2 separate regions of the Homo sapiens genome follow, and region 2 is linked to region 1. The links come from fine-mapping of genetic effects on gene expression. A gene starts in region 1. The other region holds a variant in brackets. All regions are shown on one strand. Distances are between the middles of the regions. Region 1 holds the start of KCNS3 (potassium voltage-gated channel modifier subfamily S member 3). Region 2 overlaps KCNS3 (potassium voltage-gated channel modifier subfamily S member 3).

Region 1 (9,271 bases):
CCACTACTTAAATTTTGCATTGGTTTGTTTAATGCCTGTCTCCCTCCCACTTCTCACCCCACCCCACCCCACCCCAACCCCCCACCGTTTCCTTTACCACAGTATACCCAGCACCTAGCATAGTACATAACATCATGTAAGTACTCAAATACTTGTTGAATGAATGTATGCACGGATTTGAATATATAATGAGAATACATATATGTGACTATATAAGTTAATCATTATGTCACCTTTGGTGAGCATCTGGTAAGTCCTCGGATGGCTGATTAGTAGAATACTCAGCAAGATACTTCATTCATTTGGCACTTCACCAAACTCACTGAGGCTGGCTGCTGCCAACATTAACTGCTTAACTGTAACATTATTGGCTAAAAGCAGATCTTATGCCTTTATCGTTCAATACTTGTGCAACTGAAGACAATATTTATACAGTATCTCCTCAAAGCAAATCGTAGTGCAAGGCTGTGCAGGATTCCAAAGAGAATGAGACCTCTTGCCCACAAGAAAAATACCACAACCTAGCCTAGTAACTATTTTAGCTTATTAAAGAGTTTACTTTTATAATGTGTAGATTTTGATCCTCTTAACAACTGTGAAAAAAAAGTATAATGTGCAGATATGCTAAAAAGTTTCAAAAGATGATCTAGAGAAATGATAAAGAAAAACAGGGATGAAAATTCTAAATCAGTTTCTACATTTTGTTGTACATTTTAAGCCTTGTTATTATGTTCATGATAATTGAGTATTCACTCCAGGCTTCACAAAACAGCAGGCCCCTGAAACAATAAAACAACAACACTCTTCTCCTCTTTCTCCTCCTCCCCAGCTTGTACTTACTCCCCATCCCCTGCCTCCAATAAGCACCCACAGTAGTCAAGACCAGCAAGCAAAGGCCAGGTCCAGGATGAAATTCAAACTCAGTTCCCCACTCCCCAAGGACTCTCGATAGCTCACTCCCTCCTGTTCTGCTCTCTAGCTCCAGAGAGAAGTGAGGCAGAAAGATGCTGGACTTAAAGTCAGAAGACCCCTGACTGTGTCCAAGTTCAAGGCTCAGTTTGCCTTAATTTCTTCATCAGCAATATGGGCTTCCTAACTTCTGTCCCACCTATAGCTTATAACTCTCAGTTGCTCTGAGGACTGGAATGAGATATCCCATGTGAAAGTTCCTACAAACCACAATAGGTTATACAAATGTGACCGAGTCATTGTGATTTTTATCAGGACTTAAACATTTAGCATCTTGTATTGTTCTATCTTGTCTCACTGATCTGGAGTCTCCAGATCCACTATAAGTTCAAGCTCAGAGACCATGTCATAGATTCTGCCTACCTTCATTGCCTGTAGTACTGGGCACTTAGCACCCATACAATAAGCACTTGTGAATTGGTCACTGGTTGATTTACTTGACAAATTTGCGTCGGAGTACAAAGTGTTCTGTGGTTTTTCTGAATTTCTTATATTGATAAACACATTTTCTGAAACTCACCATAATGTTTCCCTGGCCCATGATCTTTATGGTTTATCTTCCTTTTTTCCTAACCAGCTGGGCAGAATTTCACCGAAAAGCAGACCATTTTGTCAAAGGCAAAAATAATATTTTGCTAACGCAGTCTTTGAGATTCCTTTTAAGGCTGAGACATGGGACCCAAAAGTCACTTGGTAACTGTAAGCCCCCTCTGTCACTGTTCAACAAATGTAGTCCGAGATCCCACTAAGCACAGGGAACAGTGTTGGAACTGTAGGAATAAATGAGGAAAACTGAATCTCACAGTGGCTCTGCAGTCAGACTGCAAGGGATAGAATCCTAGCTTCACCTTTTCCGGGCTGGGTGACCTTGTACAAGTTACTCAGTTTGTCTCTCTTTCCTCCTGTAAAATACGGTGATAATAGAACCTACCATCCTAAGATTGTCATCAGGATGAAGTGAGTTCATACATGTAAAAGCTTTTAGCTTTTAGTGCCTAGTACAGCGTAACAACAAATATTAGAGATCTAGGTCAGTGCAGCTAAACAGACCAAGACCCAGATTAGCAAAATGACATGTCAAGTCAAGGAGCCATAAAGAAATAGATATCACAGCTGGAAACTGGGTCCCCACATCCTATTCTCTTCTCTATGATGTTTCTTTGTGGGTATTTCACACAGGTGGCACTCTGGAAGATGCACTTTCCTGACACCTGATAAGCAGAGTCAATAAACACACCCACCTTCTCTGCTTCAACATACCCTGCAGAGTCGTCCTTCCTCCTAGTGAGACCTCAGGCCCACCATTTCCCACTGGCCTCCCATCTGACTCAACATGCACCTGGGGGGTTCCATCTACTGCTGGCTCCCACAGCAATACTGCAGTGAAGAAAGCAAGCATCACATCCTCATGCAGTTGTTATGGGAATTAAATGAGATAATGCCTGGAAAAGTGCCTAGCAGAGTATCTGATATATAGTATGCAGCTAATAAATGTTATCTATTAAAAAATAGAAGGAAAAGGAGGAGGAAAACCCTGTGGTGCCTACTCTCTCAAAGCTGACACACATTCCAATGGCAAATGCCAGACACAGGGCAGATTGAGATGGGTGGTAGAACAGAGGGATGCACGTCTGTGAAGAATTACAGTGAAGGGCAAAACCCACTGAAGACAGGAGGGAGCTGCAGTTCCCACTCTCCCCCTTCCTTCTTAAAAGAAGATGATGATACTCAGTTGGTGCTTTGCTGGCAAACTCAAGCTCCAGAGCTTTGGATTTTTAATATTATAATATTTCAGAACAGAACAAAGACTGCTTCTGACCTCCCAATTTGCCCTCATACACTTGACCAGCAAAACCTTAGCGTAGCTGCATTCATCAATGGCTCTATTCAGGCAATTATGGGTCAGACAAAAGATTCAATTAATACTGATCCCGCAAGTCTCCTTAGTATATTCACAACATGCTTTGGATTCAGAGTTCTATGGCACCTTCATATGACCTTCTCCGGATCCCAATATTGACAATTCCTAGTTCAGAAACGACAAACATAATATTAGAACAAGAGAAGAAGGGAAGCTGGTGAGAAAGAAAGAACAGACTAGACTGGGTGCAGAAATTATATCATCCATTTGCTGTCTGTCCCCGAGTGCATCCTGGGGCCTGGCCCATGGCGGGCTGGTTGGAAATGCATACTGAACGAGTCAATCTCCTCAAGAAGGTCACCACCCAGGTAAGAAGTGGAGCCTGCACATTACACCAAGTTCAGCTAGAGAATCAAAGCCACCTCTTCGGCTCCAGATATGCAGGGAAGACAAAGCACGAGGGCATATGCCTTCAGCTAAGAGATAGGTGCGTGCTTCCTGTTTACCTGGGCAGGTATTTGCAAATAGTCTAAGAAGGGGGGCAACTAGGAGTGACTTACACAGTTCCAAGTGAATGGTTACGCAAATCGCTTGAGTAAATACAGGGAAAGAAACAGGAAAGGCTTCTGAACTGTTTGTACTCATCTGCTCCAGTATTTTCAGAGGGTAGGGTGAAAGACAAAAAACCCGAACGAAGGCTCCGGGCCAACCACAAAGCTACTCTCCGGCAGGAACGTAAGGAACACCTACCGCCCCTCCCCCCACTTCACGCCTTGGCACCAAACCAGGGCCCCTGGGTCATTTTGGCAGGTGGAGGTAGCTCTTTGCTGTCCTCTGCCCCTGCTGCGGGCCACCCGAGTGAAGCTTTCGGCTCGGTCTCCCCAGACAAAACCGGGGGGAGACATCAAGAATGCAAAAGGTGCTCCTTTCTCCAAATGAACGAGAAGGGACAGAGCGGGGTTGGGGGTGCAGGACAAGCCCTGCAATGCGAAAGGCGCCCAGCCAGGCTCGCCGCGGCCCCTGCCGGCAAGACTGGCTCGCTTGCTAGCCAAGGTGCCTCAGGAGGTCGGGCAGCCACCCAGAAAGGCGCGAAAAAAAAAAGAGGAGTTCCTGACCCCGGGGTGACCCTTCCCCACCACTGCCACTGATCCAAACGCAGAGTCCGCAAGTGACTCCACACCTGCGCTGCAAGCCTCACGCCGTCCCCACCCAGGGCGCAGCGCTGCACGAGAGCAAGGGCCCTGGGTTCGCTCTTCCCTGCAACTGTCGCGGGGCGCCTAGCACAGCTGCAGGGCAAAGGGGAGGGGAGGAATGACAAAGAAGGCGGAGCAGACGGCCCGGGAAGCATTTACAAGCGCCAGGAAAGCGCCTCCTCTCGAGGAAGGGAAGGAACGGCTTCCCGGCCAAGGAAACGCCCCGGGGATGCCCCTACGCGAGGTGCCGCCTTTCTTCGGCTCATCGATTCTCCCGCCTCCAGGTGGTCCTCCCCCTGACCATAGCCCACCCCACTCCCCGAAAGCTGATCCTAAATACCTTCCCCGAGGCTTTCAAATCAACCCAGCCACCGCTTCAACAGCCCGCAGTTCACGCAACAGGCGGAGCCTTAGGGCTCCAGCGACGGCGGGCTCTGGGGACCAGAGGATGCGGGCGCCGCGGGCCAGACGCCCAGAAGGACGGAAAGTGCTCTGCGGCCGTAGACCCTCGGGGTCGTGCACCCGCGACCTGGACCACAGGAGACTGGGGCAGCAAAAGGTGGGGGAAGGCGCGGTAAAGTTGCAGGGTCGCCCGGAGAAGTCTCCGGAGCGCGCAGGGAGGTGGGGACGCCAGCCAGGTACCTGCAGGAGTCCGGACGCATCCAGCTAGCTCCGCTCTGCGACGCCGCCTGCCCGCGCTGCAGGGATCAGGCCTCGCGGCGCGGCCCCGCGCCTGCCGCCGCGGCGGCGAGGAGAGCGGGGTGGCCCGCGTCGGCCGGTCTGTCCGTCGGTCCCGCCCCGCTAGAGCGAGGCTCCCGGGAGCTGCGGGCGGGGCGGGGCCGGACGGGACGGGGCGGGGCCCGCCGCTCGGCCGCCGCCCCATTGGTCGCAGCTCCGCCAGCCCCTCGCTTCGGGCCCGCAGCCGGGCGCCCCGGGCCGAGGGCGCGGGCGGCTGAGGACTGCGGGGCTCCGACCGCCAGACAGGCGGACAGACCCATAGACCTAGATGCTGCCCTGCCGGCCGCGCGCCCCCGCCCAGGCCCAAGTGCAGAGTCACCCCGGAGCGGCAGGCGCTGTCCGGGTGGGACCAGGAGCGCGCCCCGCGCCTCCCACCTGCGCGCCCTCCTGGGCCGGAAGCGCCGTGGCCCTGCGGGAAAAAGATGACCTCCCCCGCGGCCCCGGCGGCTGGGGCAACCGCCTTTCTAAAGTCGCGGCCCAAGCGACACTTTGCTAATTTGCCTGGATTTCCTCAGGAAATCGCGAGGCCCAAACTTGTTTTAAAACAAAGTGCGAAGGAGAGTACATATAGCTCCAGTTCCTGCCAATGTTTGCCATCGGTCCCGCTGCCTGAAGACTCAGGCACAGTGCAGAACAAGATGCTTTGTCTTATTCCTCCACTCACCGAGTCAGAAGAGGTGCTTGGACATTTGCACCAAGCAGATGCGCCTCATATGTAGAAGAGGAACCAGTCGGGTCCCCTTTCGGAAGGACGAATGGAAGAGGAAGTCAGGGGACGATGCCTTCAGCCGACGTTGAGGAACAAACCAGGACCTCGGCGAGGACAGCGTGTGGTCCAGAAGGCATCGCTGGCCTCGCTGCACTGAGCGAGAGCGCTCAGTTAACAGCCAGGAGGAGAAATGGGACGCTTCGGGACCCACCCCCGCGCTCCCCCTCCCGCCCCCAAACTGCAGATTTTTAAGTTGTGCAGACGTGGAACAATTCCTCGGAGCCAGCTGCTCCAAGCTAAGGCGCCCAGTGTTCCCTGGGTTCCTACCCGCAGCATACGCCCTGCCAGCTGCCCCCAAGCCAGCACCCGCTGACCACTCACCTCAGGCAAGCACCTAGGAAGACGATGCAGATTCAAGCTCCAGACCTTGAGCCAAGCGCTGGGGAGGGAATGGGGGCAAAGAGATGGTGGAAAACACTTTCCTGAACTTACTGAATACCCTATGTTATGTGTGGGTTTTCTAATTGTTCTTTGCTTAATGAAAAACCCACGTTGGAAATCAGAAAAAGGCAGTAATCCTCACCGTATCTTGTGGGCTTCAAAGAGGAGGTTTTCCCCTTAAAGGGAGTTTTGGTCCAGAGGAGAGGCTAACAGCAGGCAGGAAGGGCAGAGGAAAAGATAAAGCCTAGGGTGGTCTTCCCCCTGAGGCCTGGAGCCCACCAAGCTCCAACAGTTTCATTTGGCTTCTGGGAAGCAAAGTACAGATGCATGTGTCTGCAGAGCACTGTTCTGAGCCATTTGTCCCTAATTCCATGGTTCTTTGGTTCCTCCAATCTTGTCTCCTCTCCTGTGGAAGAGGATCCAAAGCATTGGTCCACACTGCTATTTACAAGTGGCTGAAGAAGGTAACTTTCTTACATAGTTCATCTTTAGCATAAGCTCTAAGATTGTTCTAAAAATATATTTACATTTTATCAACACCTTAGAAGAATGCTTCCAGATCTCTCCCAGCAGTTACCTATTTAATCATTTTAAAATCACTAAGTTTATCCAAAAAGTCCAGCATGGTTTACTTGAGAAGGAAATATGTTCAGAATCTCTAAGCACTGCAGAAGGCACCTGCAGTGCAGAAGAGTTGGCAGTGAGGTCTTTCTCCTGGGGTCTGGGCGGAACATGTGAGCAGTCGGGAAGGCACACACAGTGGGAGCCAGTAAGGGCCCCTGTGCATCTGCAGGAGCTGAGGACAGAAGGGGTGGGCCTCCACGGTGGGCATGTAGGAGTGGGCACAGAGAAGGGCCACAGATCTGAGACAGAGACAGACAGGACTTCTTACCCTGCTGAGCCCTGCAGGGAGCCACTTCGTCTTTCAGCCCTGATTTTGTCATCTGTAAGGAAATTTCCTCTCTCCCAGGGTAATCATGTGAAGCCAATGAAATAATAAAAAGGACCACATCGGATGACCCCTGAGGCAGGTCTGCTCCCCAAAAGTTTACTCTTGAATGTTGACCAAGGTTGAGCTAGGCAAAGTGGTAAATTCACACACACGGTATGTAGCCCCTTCCCCAACCCCAGTCTCCATTACCGGGGGCATGCTGTGAACTAACTGCCTCCTTTTCCCCACACACCCACTTCCTGCCCAGTCTTTATGCCTCCCGATATGACATCCCGTTCCCTCTTAATTAACTGTGCCTATAGAGAAACATCTAGATAAACCATGCATTTAATCTGTGAGGGGTCAATCATTTAATCATCGTTGACAATAATGCTCACTCCTCTGTGGTTTCAGAGGACTCCTGGAGTGGATGGAGACACATGCCACTAATGTGGGATGCATTTCAGTCTGTCTTCCAGGCCTCGTTTGGAGGTCTCCCTCTCTTACCCACCTATCACACATCCATGTCTTCCCTTCCCTCCCCAGAGCCAAACCTGTCCCCGACTTTTTATTCTCACTAAAGTTCAAATGACAGAAATCAGCTAGATTAGTACTTGCCTTAGTCCTGAAGGAAAGGGAAGTGCTCATTAGCTTCTTAAATTGGAACAGGTCTGCAGGTGAAAATGAAGATGTGCTCATCTCTGGCAGGAAGGTTGGGAGTGAGGGGTATAGTCATAATGAGCAGCGTTTATTTGGTGTGTGCCTCTCACTTGCCACTTTCTACCCAGCTGCCTGAATATCACTCCAGTTAGTCTGAGCACATGAAACACCTGCAACTCCCCAGACCCACCATGCTTTTTCTTGACTCTCTGAATGCACAGCAGTGCCTCCTCAGCTAAGAACACAGTTCCCCATCACCAAGCTTTGCTTTGCCCAACAGACCCCTTCTCCCTTAGGATGAGATTCAGTGGATAATCACATCATAATCACGACCCTCTGGGAAGCCGCCTCTCTCATCCTGGGTTGTGTGTTGTGTGTTTCCTTTCCACACTCCCTCAGCAGCCTTTGCCTCCCACTTTCATAGAATCTACCATATGGGATTTTAACTGTTTGTCTTCCACTAGACAATAAGCTCCTTGAAGACTGAATTTCCAGGAACTTCTGTTGGATCTGCATGTTTGTGAAGTGAATTACTGAAGGCTGCCCAGTTTCATCTGATCCTAGTCAAAACCTAAATCCCTTATTTCTACGCTACCTTTTGCCAGGTAAAAATAAAACATGTAAACCATCATATCGCTGTCTTTGCTTGGCTGCCAGGAAGCTCAGAACTAAATTTACATTAAATTAAATTTAGTTCTCAATCAGCTAGAATGTTTTTATTTCAGATTATTGCTACAATGATCATGCTCTTTTCACAAAATTATTGTATGCTTACTCTAACTGCCCTGTGGTATTATTTTTATATCAAAAGTTTCTTAAGGCCGGGTGCAGTGGCTCACATCTGTAATCCTAGCACTTTGGAAGGCCAAGGCGGGTAGATTGCTTGAGTCCAGGAGTTCAAGACCAGCCTTGGCAATATGGCAAAACCCTGCCTATATAACAAATACAAAAATTATCCAGGCATGGTGGTGCATGCCTGTAGTCCCAGCTAGTTGGGAGGCTGAGGCAGGAGGATTATTTGAACCTGGGATGTGGAGGTTGCAGTGAGCAGAGATGGTGCCATTGCCCTCCAGCCTGGGTGACAGAGAGAGACCCTGTCTAAAAAAAAAAGAAAAAGAAAAGAAAAAGAAAAATTCCTTAAATCTTTATGATCTTCAAGTACAAAGACTTGAATTCTGATTCAGCTCTGTCCCTGATTACCTCAGTGATATTTCCTCTTGGGCCCTACATTTGGGTTGGGACTATATCATCTTTAAGGCCCTTGCCAGGTCTAAAAGCTTTATGTTTCTATAGATAAAAGGAGACACTTTATAAATTATTAAAGAAAGAAAAAACCCTGTGACAGGCTATGTCTCCAGGCACAAAGGAATGCTGTCCTCAGGTACTCAGAATCACCCTCTGAAGGCCCTTGAGTATTGCCCAAGGTGAGTGCCACAGAACACCTGTGCCTGACCCTAGGCACGGAAAGGAAGGTGTTTACTCCATCACACTGGCAGGTCCTCATAACACTCTAGTATAGGAAAGGCTCTGTCTGAGAAGTTAGCCCATGAAAATATTTCCAGGGATGGCCTTCCAGATTGCTCATACTCTGGTCACAACTTGATTTTTTACCACATTTCAAGCTCTTCACACCTTTCTCTCTGCCTTACTCATTCATCACCACCTCCCCTCCCCTCTCCTCTGCACTTTCCTCACATTCCAGCCCGACAGAAGTGGCCCATCTCTCCTCTATGCTCACTGCATGCCATCTGAGTCTTGCCTTTCTGGTG
Region 2 (9,271 bases), 30 kb before region 1:
CACCCAGTGTTTAATTAAATAAAATTAAAATATCATAATCATACTGCCATAATTGGATTTAGTGTGCTAGAAAAAAAATGTACTGATATTTAAATCCTATAATCCAAAGCAATCAGAATCAAACATCTTCCAGTTGATTCAGACAGGGCATGACTAAGAATATCCCTCCACTACTAACTCTGTCCAAATTTAACTGTCAAATTTCAAGAAGTACCTTAAGTTAATATGGCAAATCCTTGAATTAACATGATTTTTAAAAATCTGTCCCTAAAAGAAAATGAAAACTTCTCAGGGTCTAATATATTCAGGGACAAACCAGTAAGTGCTTTCTAAAGCAAAGTCTCTAAATTATTTTTGAAAGGTTAGTATAAATTATATTTTTCTTGGTCATTCAGAGTGAGTAAATGCCATACCAACTGCAGGAATCCCAAGACTTGATGCATGGGTAACTAAATACCACCTTCCTTTCCTCCTGCTCTATGTTTCTAGACAACCTCCCCCTGGGGAATGGAGGGGAGGCAGCAGGGACGCAGCTGTGTTGCCTTGGCAAGAAAATCTAGAGAAAGGAAAGGAGAGACAGGCAGACCAGGCGCTTCCCTGCGGAAGGGTGTGCACCTCATAGAAGGAAGTACAACACAGTCACTGAGTGTTGACAGGGCTCTAGGGTCACTCTGAGTGGTCCATGCAACTGCTCCTGGCCACAGAAAGGAACTGCACTGGCTCCATCCACCTTGTAGTCATCTCCCTACCGCATGGCTAGCTGGAGACAGAGGCTAGGGCTGTCCCATTTGAATGCATCAAACAACTGCACTAACACAGGCCGATAAAGAGGAACTGAAAGCAAGCAGCTTTGGAGTGAGCAGGAAAGTATCATACAATGATAGCAGTGAAAACTTCTTAAAGAAACCTTTCTGGAGGACATCATAGCAATGTGTATCACAAAATCCCAGGGTTTCACATTTTGGCATGTGTCCTGAAGAAATAAATCAGACAAGCGTTGAAAGATGCATGTACAAGGTTGTTCACTGCATCATTATTTGTAAGAGTGAAATGTCAAAGACAGCCTGCACGTCCATCAATAGAGGAATGATTAAATAGACTGGGGGTAGCCATGCAATGAATACTCTGTAGCCATTAAAAATGCTGAAATAATAAAAGTTACAGAAGTTACAGCTTCCTTATACTAAGTCTGGCCCTGTGCTTTTTACATGTCTAAATCCATTTAATCCTTGCAGCACTCAGACAAGTGGTGTTTTTATTGCATTCGTTTTGCAGATGGAGAAACTGGTAAATAGAGAAGTTAACTGATTTTAGGGAGTCAACAGCTATTAAGTGACAACTCCATGATTCGAATCCAAACAATAATTCTTCAAAGCCATTCTCTTAGCTACTACAGCTCTACTGCATGTAAAACCATTAAAAAGTCACAATATGCTAAGTACAAAAGAGAAATAATTATGACGCAATATATAGCATGATCCTATCTTTGTAAAATATGTCTTTTTAGAGTAAATGAGAATATATACCAAAATGTTAAATTCATTGTCTCTGGATAATGGAATTTGGAGTGATTTTGCTTTCTACTCTCTACATCTCAACATTGTGTACATTTCTTACTTTAAATAAATAGGTATTATAAAATATTTATGAAAATAGTTATTTCTACATAGAAAAATAAAAGGTCATAAGCAGCTCCAGTCAGCATCTGGGCAGAGGAAAAGGGGAATGAGATAGATATCAAATGAACTTATAGATTCACATGAGAAAGGATCCCCAGCCCCCAGCCAAAGCCCTCCACTATCCTGAGCTAATGCTATTCATTCATGGCTGCTTTATGACAGGCAGTATCCTGGGAACTACCAAGGACAAAAGATAACATGGATCTTGCCCTCAAAGCTTACAGGAGCTGAGAAGAACAAAAAGGAGGGTAAATGGGTAAATAAATAACGGCAATACAAGGTCCAGTAGTATGTCAGGCATGGGAAAAGGTACAGAGACGGTATTGAGGAAGTTCAGAAGAGGTAGAGTCCCTCGAGATAAGGAAGCGGGGACAGCTACATGAATAGGTAGTATTTGGAGATAATCCTTGAAGAGCGAGTCAGGTATGAACAAGTAAAGGAGCCAGGTAAGGGTAAGAAGGCTCTTCTCCAAGGAGAGAAAAGAACACATACAAAAGCATGGTGGCAGGAAAGCTCGTGGTATGGACAGAGAGCAGAAAATGGTAGACTTGGGCTATAGGAAGTAGCCTATGACCTAGAGCTATTTATACAGATTATTTCTTTTAAAATATGAAGAATTCTGCCTGTACTATCCACATCTTTGTGAATTAGGAATACCAAAGTAAGAGATGTCTATGGGAGAGGAGAATGGATTGATTGCCTGTGGCCACACAGAGAATCTGCGGCTACAAAAGGACCACACCTCGGGCCTCCTGAAAGATTTAGCCACAAGGAACCAATCAGAGACTATAAAGACCTCTTGGAGTTACTGCTCTTCCTAGAACATTTAAAAAAAAAAAAAGTAGACACTTCCACTGGGTGTGCCAATCCACCAAGAATCCCAGTGATCTGAAATGGCAAGCAGTGAATTCCAGTAGTGCCAACTGATATGCTGACAACAACAGAAACAGCAACATTTCATTACTTCATCCCTCTCCTCTTTTGTATTCCATTTAAACTGTTCACCTAAGAGTTAGAGTAGGGGGTCTGTGTTGAAATTCAGGAGGTCCTTGAATTTAGACAGAAAAAAATATTTATTTTCACCAATCTCTAACTAAAATTTTAGCAATTCCTTCCATTAAAAATGCAGGCATTGGCCCAGGGTAGTGTGTATTAGCAGTGCCAATGACTTCACACCAATAGAAGTATGAATAGCTTCATATCCTATCAGAGTTATTGAAGAGATCTCAAAATATCATTTATACTCATTATTACTTTGGAATCACAGTAGTTATAGACCTACTGCTAGATTTTATTTAAAGAATTAATAAGCAAATATATTGCTAACTCATAAATTGCTTTTACTATTTTGGTAATTGCATTTCAACATAACTGGATTCCTTTACATCCTGTAGGTTTCATCTTTTGTGTTTAAACACGCTATTCTGAAAAGGGGTCCATAGGGTTTCTCAGACTCCCAAAGGGGTTCATGGCAAAAGGAAGGATTAAGAATCCTTTAGCTAGAGATCCTGTTAAAATGTGCATCACATCATGTCCCTCCTATGTTCAACCCTCCAGTGGCTTCCATCCTACTCAGAGTCAAAGTGCCCACCATCCACCCTCCCCTAACTTCATTTGTCTGATCTTACCTCCTACTCCTCTCACCCTCTATCATTCCCATCTGTCATCCTGGTCTCCTTGCTAATGCTTATCATGCCAAGTGAGCCATATCCTAATTCAGGGCCTCTGCAGTGGCTGAACCCTCTGCCTGGAATGCTCTTTCTTCTGCATGGCTTGCCCTCTCACTTCCCTCAAGTCTTCACTCAAATGATATCTTCTCAACAAGAACATCCTCAGTTAGCCTATCTAAAATGTCAATAACCCGAGGTGGGGCAGTTCCAAGATGGCTGAATAGGAACAGCTCCGGTCTACAGCTCCCAGCATGAGCAACGCAGAAGACGAGTGATTTCTGCATTTCCAACTGAGGTACCGGGTTCATCTCACTGGGGCTCGTCAGACAGTGGGGGCAGGACAGTGGGTGCAGCCTACCGAGTGTGAGCCGAAGCAGGGCAAGGCATTGCCTCACCTGGGAAGAACAAAGGGTCAGGGAATTCCCTTTCCTAGCTAAGGTAAGGGGTGACAGATGGCACCTGGAAAATCAGGTCACTCCCACCCTAATACCGCACTTTTCCAACGGTCTTAGCAAACAGCACACCAGGAGATTATATCCCATGCATGGCTTGGAGGGTCCCACGCCCACGGAGCCTCACTCATTGCTAGCACAGCAGTCTGAGATAGAACTGCAAGGTGGCAGCGAGGCTGGGGGAGGGGCGCCCGCCATTGCTGAGGCTTGAGTAGGTAAACAAAGCAGCCCAGAAGCTCGAACTGGGTGGAGCCCACTGCAGCTCAAGGAGGCCTGCCTGCCTCTGTAGACTCCACCTCTGGGGCGGGCATAGCCAAACAAAAGGCAGCAGAAACCTCTGCAGACTTAAATGTCCCTGTCTGACAGCTTTGAAGGGAGTAGTGGTTCTCCCAGTACAGAGTTTGAGATCTGAGAATGGACAGACTGCCTCCTCAAGTGAGTCCCTGACCCCCGAGCAGCCTATCTGGGAGGCACCCCCCAGTAGGGGCAGACTGACACTTCACACGGCCGGGTACCCCTCTGAGACAAAGCTTCCAGAGGAACGATCAGGCAGCAACATTTGCTGTTCAGCAATATTCGCTGTTCTGCAGCCTCCACGGCTGATACCCAGGCAAATAGGGTCTGGAGTGGACCTCTAGCAAACTCCAACAGACCTGCAGCTGAGGGTCCTGACTGCTAGACGGAAAACTAACAAACAGAAAGGACATCCACACCAAAACCCCATCTGTACGTCACCATTATCAAAGACCAAAGGTAGATAAAACCACAAAGATGGGGAAAAAACAGAGCAGAAAAACTGAAAATTCTAAAAATCAGAGTACCTCTCCCCCTCCATAGGGATGCAGCTCCACGCCAGCAACGGAACAAAGCTGGATGGAGAATGTCTTTGACGAGTTGAGAAAAGAAGGCTTCAGACGATCAAACTTCTCCGAGCTAAAGGAGGAAGTTCGAACCCATGGCAAAGAAGCTAAAAACCTTGAAAAAAGATTAGAAGAATGGCTAAC[G/A]AGAATAATCGGGGTAGAGAAGTCCTTAAATGACCTGACGGAGCTGAAAACCATGGCACGAGAACTACATGACGAATGCACAAGCTTCAGTAGCCGATTCAATCAACTGGAAGAAAGGGTATCAGTGATTGAAGATTAAATGAATGAAATGAAGTGAGAAGAGAAGTTTAGAGAAAAAAGAGTAAAGAGAAATGAACAAAGCCTCCAAGAAATATGGGACTATGTGAAAAGACCAAATCTACGTCTGATTGGTGTACCTAAAAGTGACGGGGAGAATGGAACCAAGTTCGAAAACACTCTGCAGGATATTATCCAGGAGAACATCCCCAACCCAGAAAGGTAGGCCAACATTCAAATTCAGGAAATACAGAGAATGCCACAAAGATACTCCTCGAGAAGAGCAACTCCAAGACACACAATTGTCAGATCCACCAAAGTTGAAATGAAGGAAAAAATGTTAAGGGCAGCCAGAGAGAAAGGTCGGGTTGCCCACAAAGGGAAACCCATCAGACTAACAGCGGATCTCTTAGCAGAAACTCTACAACCCAGAAGAGAGTGGGGGCCAATATTCAACATTCTTAAGGAAAAGAATTTTCAACCCAGAATTTCATATCCAGCCAAACTAAGCTTCTTAAGCGAAGGAGAAATAAAATCCTTTACAGACAAGCAAATGCTGAGAGATTTTGTCACCACCAGGCCTGCCTTACAAGAGCTCCTGAAGGAAGCACTAAACATGGAAAGGAACAACCAGTACCAGCCACTGCAAAAACATGACAAATTGTAAAGATCATCGATGCTAGGAATAAACTGCATCAACTAACGAGCAAAATAACCAGCTAACATCATAAGGAGTGGATCAAATTCACACATAACAATATTAACCTTAAATGTAAATGGGCTAAATGTTCCAATTAAAAGACACAGACTGGCAAATTGGACAAAGAGTCAAGACCCATCAGTGCGCTGTATTCAGGAGACCCATCTCACGTGCAGAGACACACATAGGCTCAAAATAAAGGGATGGAGGAAGATCTACCAAGCAAATGGAAAGCAAAAGAAACCAGTGGTTGCAATCCTAGTCTCTGATAAAACAGACTTTAAACCAACAAAGATCAAAAGAGACAAAGAAGGCCATTACATAATGGTAAAAGGATCAATTCAACAAGAAGAGCTAACTATCTTAAATATATATGCACCCAATATAGGAGCACCCAGATTCATAAAGCAAGTCCTTAGAGATCTACAAAGAGACTTAGACTCCCACACACTAATAATGGGAGACTTTAACACCCCACTGTCAACATTAGACAGATCAACGAGACAGAAAGTTAACAAGGATATCCAGGAATTGAACTCAGCTCTGCACCAAGCAGACCCAATAGACATCTACAGCACTCTACACCACATATCAACAGAACATACATTCTTCGCAGCACCACATCACACTTATTCCAAAATTGACCACATAGTTGGAAGTAAAGGACTCCTCAGCAAATGTAAGAGAACAGAAATTATAACAAACAGTCTCTCAGACCACAGTGCAATCAAACTAGAACTCAGGATTAAGAAACTCACTCAAAACCACTCAACTACATGGAAACTGAACAACCTGCTCCTGAATGACTACTGGGTACATAATGAAATGAAGGCAGAAATAAAGATGTTCTTTGAAACCAATGAGAACAACGACACAACATACCAGAATCTCTGGGACATTTAAAGCAGTGTGTAGAGGGAAATTTACAGCACTAAATGCCCACAAGAGAAAGCAGGAAACATCTAAAACTGACAACCTAACATCACAATTAAAAGAACTAGAGAAGCAAGAGCAAACACATTCAAAAGCTAGCAGAAGGCAAGAAATAACTAAGATCACAGAAGAACTGAAGGAGATAGAGACACAAAAAACCCTTCAAAAAATCAATGAATCCAGGAGCTGGTTTTTTGAAAAGATCAACAAAATAGATAGACCGCTAGCAAGACTAATAAAGAAGAAAAGAGAGAAGAATCAAATAGACACAATAAAAAGTGACAAAGGGGATATCACCACCGATCCCACAGAAATACAAACTAGTATCAGAGAATACTATAAACATCTCTATGCAAATAAACTAGAAAATCTAGAAGAAATGGATAAATTCCTGGACACATACACCCTCCCAAGATTAAACCACGAAGAAGTTGAATCCCTGAATAGACCAATAACAGGCTCTGAAATTGAGGCAATAATTAATAGCCTACCAACCAAAAAAAGTCCAGGACCAGACGGATTCACAGCCGAATTCATCAGAGGTACAAGGAGGAGCTGGTACCATTCCTTCTGAAACTATTCCAATCAATAGAAAAAGAGGGAATCCTCCCTAACTCATCTTATCAGGCCAGCATCATCATGATACCAAAGCCTGGCAGAGACACAACAAAAAAAGAGAATTTTAGACCAATATCCTTGATGAACATCGATGCAAAAATCCTCAATAAAATACGGGCAAACCAAATCCAGCAGCACATCAAAAAGCTTACCCACCATGATCAAGTGGGCTTCATCCCTGGGATGCAAGACTGGTTCAACATATGCAAATCAATAAACGTAATCCAGCATATAAACAGAACCAAAGACAAAAGCCACATGATTATCTCAATAGATGCAGAAAAGGCCTTTGACAAAATTCAACAGCCCTTCATGCTAAAAACTCTCAATAAATTAGGCATTGATGAGATGTATCTCAAAATAATAAGAGCTATTTATGACAAACCCACAGCCAATATCATACTGAATGGGCAAAAACTGGAAGCATTCCCTTTGAAAACTGGCACAAGACAGGGATGCCCTCTCTCACCACTCCTATTCAACATAGTGTTGGAAATTCTGGCCAGGGCAATCAGGCAGGAGAAAGAAATAAAGGGTATTCAATTAGGAAAAGAGGAAGTCAAATTGTCCCTGTTTGCAGATGACATGATTGTATATTTAGAAAACCCCATCATCTCAGCCCAAAATCTCCTTAAGCTGATAAGCAACTTCAGCAAAGTCTCAGGATACAAAATCAATGTGCAAAAATCGCAAGCATTCTTATACACCAATAACAGACAAACAGAGAGCCAAATCATGAGTGAAGTCCCATTCGCACTTGCTTCAAAGAGAATAAAATACCTAGGAATCCAACTTACAAGGGATGTGAAGGACCTCTTCAAGGAGAACTACAAACTACTGCTCAATGAAATAAAAGAGGATACAAACAAATGGAAGAACATTCCATGCTCATGGATAGGAAGAATCATTATTGTGAAAATGGCCACACTGCCCAAGGTAATTTATAGATTCAATGCCATCCCCATCAAGCTACCAATGACTTTCTTCACAGAATTGGAAAAAACTACTTTAAAGTTCATATGGAACCAAAAAAGAGCCCGCATTACCAAGACAATCCTAAGCCCAAAGAACAAAGCTGGAGGCATCACGCTACCTGACTTCAAACTATACTACAAGGCTACAGTAACCAAAACAGCATGGTACTGGTACCAAAACAGAGATATAGACCAATGGAACAGAACAGAGCCCTCAGAAATAATACCACACATCTACGACCATCTGATCTTTGACAAACCTGACAAAAAGAAGAAATGCGGAAAGGATTCCCTATTTAATAAATGGTGCTGGGAAAACTGGCTAGCCATATGTAGAAAGCTGGAACTGGATCCCTTCCTTACATCTTATACAAAAATTAATTCAAGATGGATTAAAGACTTAAATGTTAGACCTAAAACCATAAAAACCCTAGAGGAAAACCTAGGCAATACCATTCAGGACATAGGCATGGGCAAGGACTTCATGTCTAAAACACCAAAAGCAATGGCAACAAAAGCCAAAATTGACAAATGGGATCTAATTAAACTAAAGAGCTTCTGCACAGCAAAAGAAACTACCATCAGAGTGAACAGGCAACCTACAGAATGGGAGAACATTTTTGCAATCTACTCATCTGACAAAGGGCTAATATCCAGAATATACAAAGAACTCCAACAAATTTACAAGAAAAAAACAAACAACCCCATCAACAAGTGGGCGAAGGATATGAACAGACACTTCTCAAAAGAAGACATTTATGCAGCCAAAAGACACATGAAAAAATGCTCATCATCCCTGGCTATCAGAGAAATACAAATCAAAACCACAATGAGATACCATCTCACACCAGTTACAATGGCAATCATTAAAAAGTTCAGGAAACCACAGGTGCTGGAGAGGATGTGGAGAAATAGGAACACTTTTACACTGTTGGTGGGACTGTAAACTAGTTCAACCATTGTGGAAGTCAGTGTGGCGACTCCTCAGGGATCTAGAACTAGAAATACCATTTGACCCAGCCATCCCATTACTGGGTATATACCCAAAGGATTATAAATCATGCTGCTATAAAGGCACATGCACGCGTATGTTTATTGCAGCACTATTCACAATAGTAAAGACT

What was found. PIP is the estimated chance that this variant, and not a neighbour inherited with it, causes the effect. A credible set is the group of variants that fine-mapping cannot tell apart.
Region 2: its variant is the best candidate, but not a certain one, in a credible set for the expression of KCNS3 in aorta (GTEx, PIP 0.58).

The regions. Positions count from the first base shown.
Region 1 is chr2:17,874,201-17,883,471 of GRCh38, reverse strand. KCNS3 (potassium voltage-gated channel modifier subfamily S member 3) reads right to left here and starts at 4,805. Exons shown (of 3, transcript NM_002252.5): 1 at 4,666-4,805. LOC124907737 (a long non-coding RNA gene) reads left to right here and starts at 6,910. Exons shown (of 2, transcript XR_007086226.1): 1 at 6,910-8,107. RefSeq lists silencers at 4,685-4,734, 4,825-5,024, 5,035-5,194.
Region 2 is chr2:17,903,882-17,913,152 of GRCh38, reverse strand. All of the region lies in intron 1 of KCNS3 (potassium voltage-gated channel modifier subfamily S member 3), which reads right to left. Among named protein-coding and RNA genes, the nearest start is that of KCNS3, 30 kb to the right of the region's middle. The variant G/A (reference allele first, on the strand shown) is at 4,806.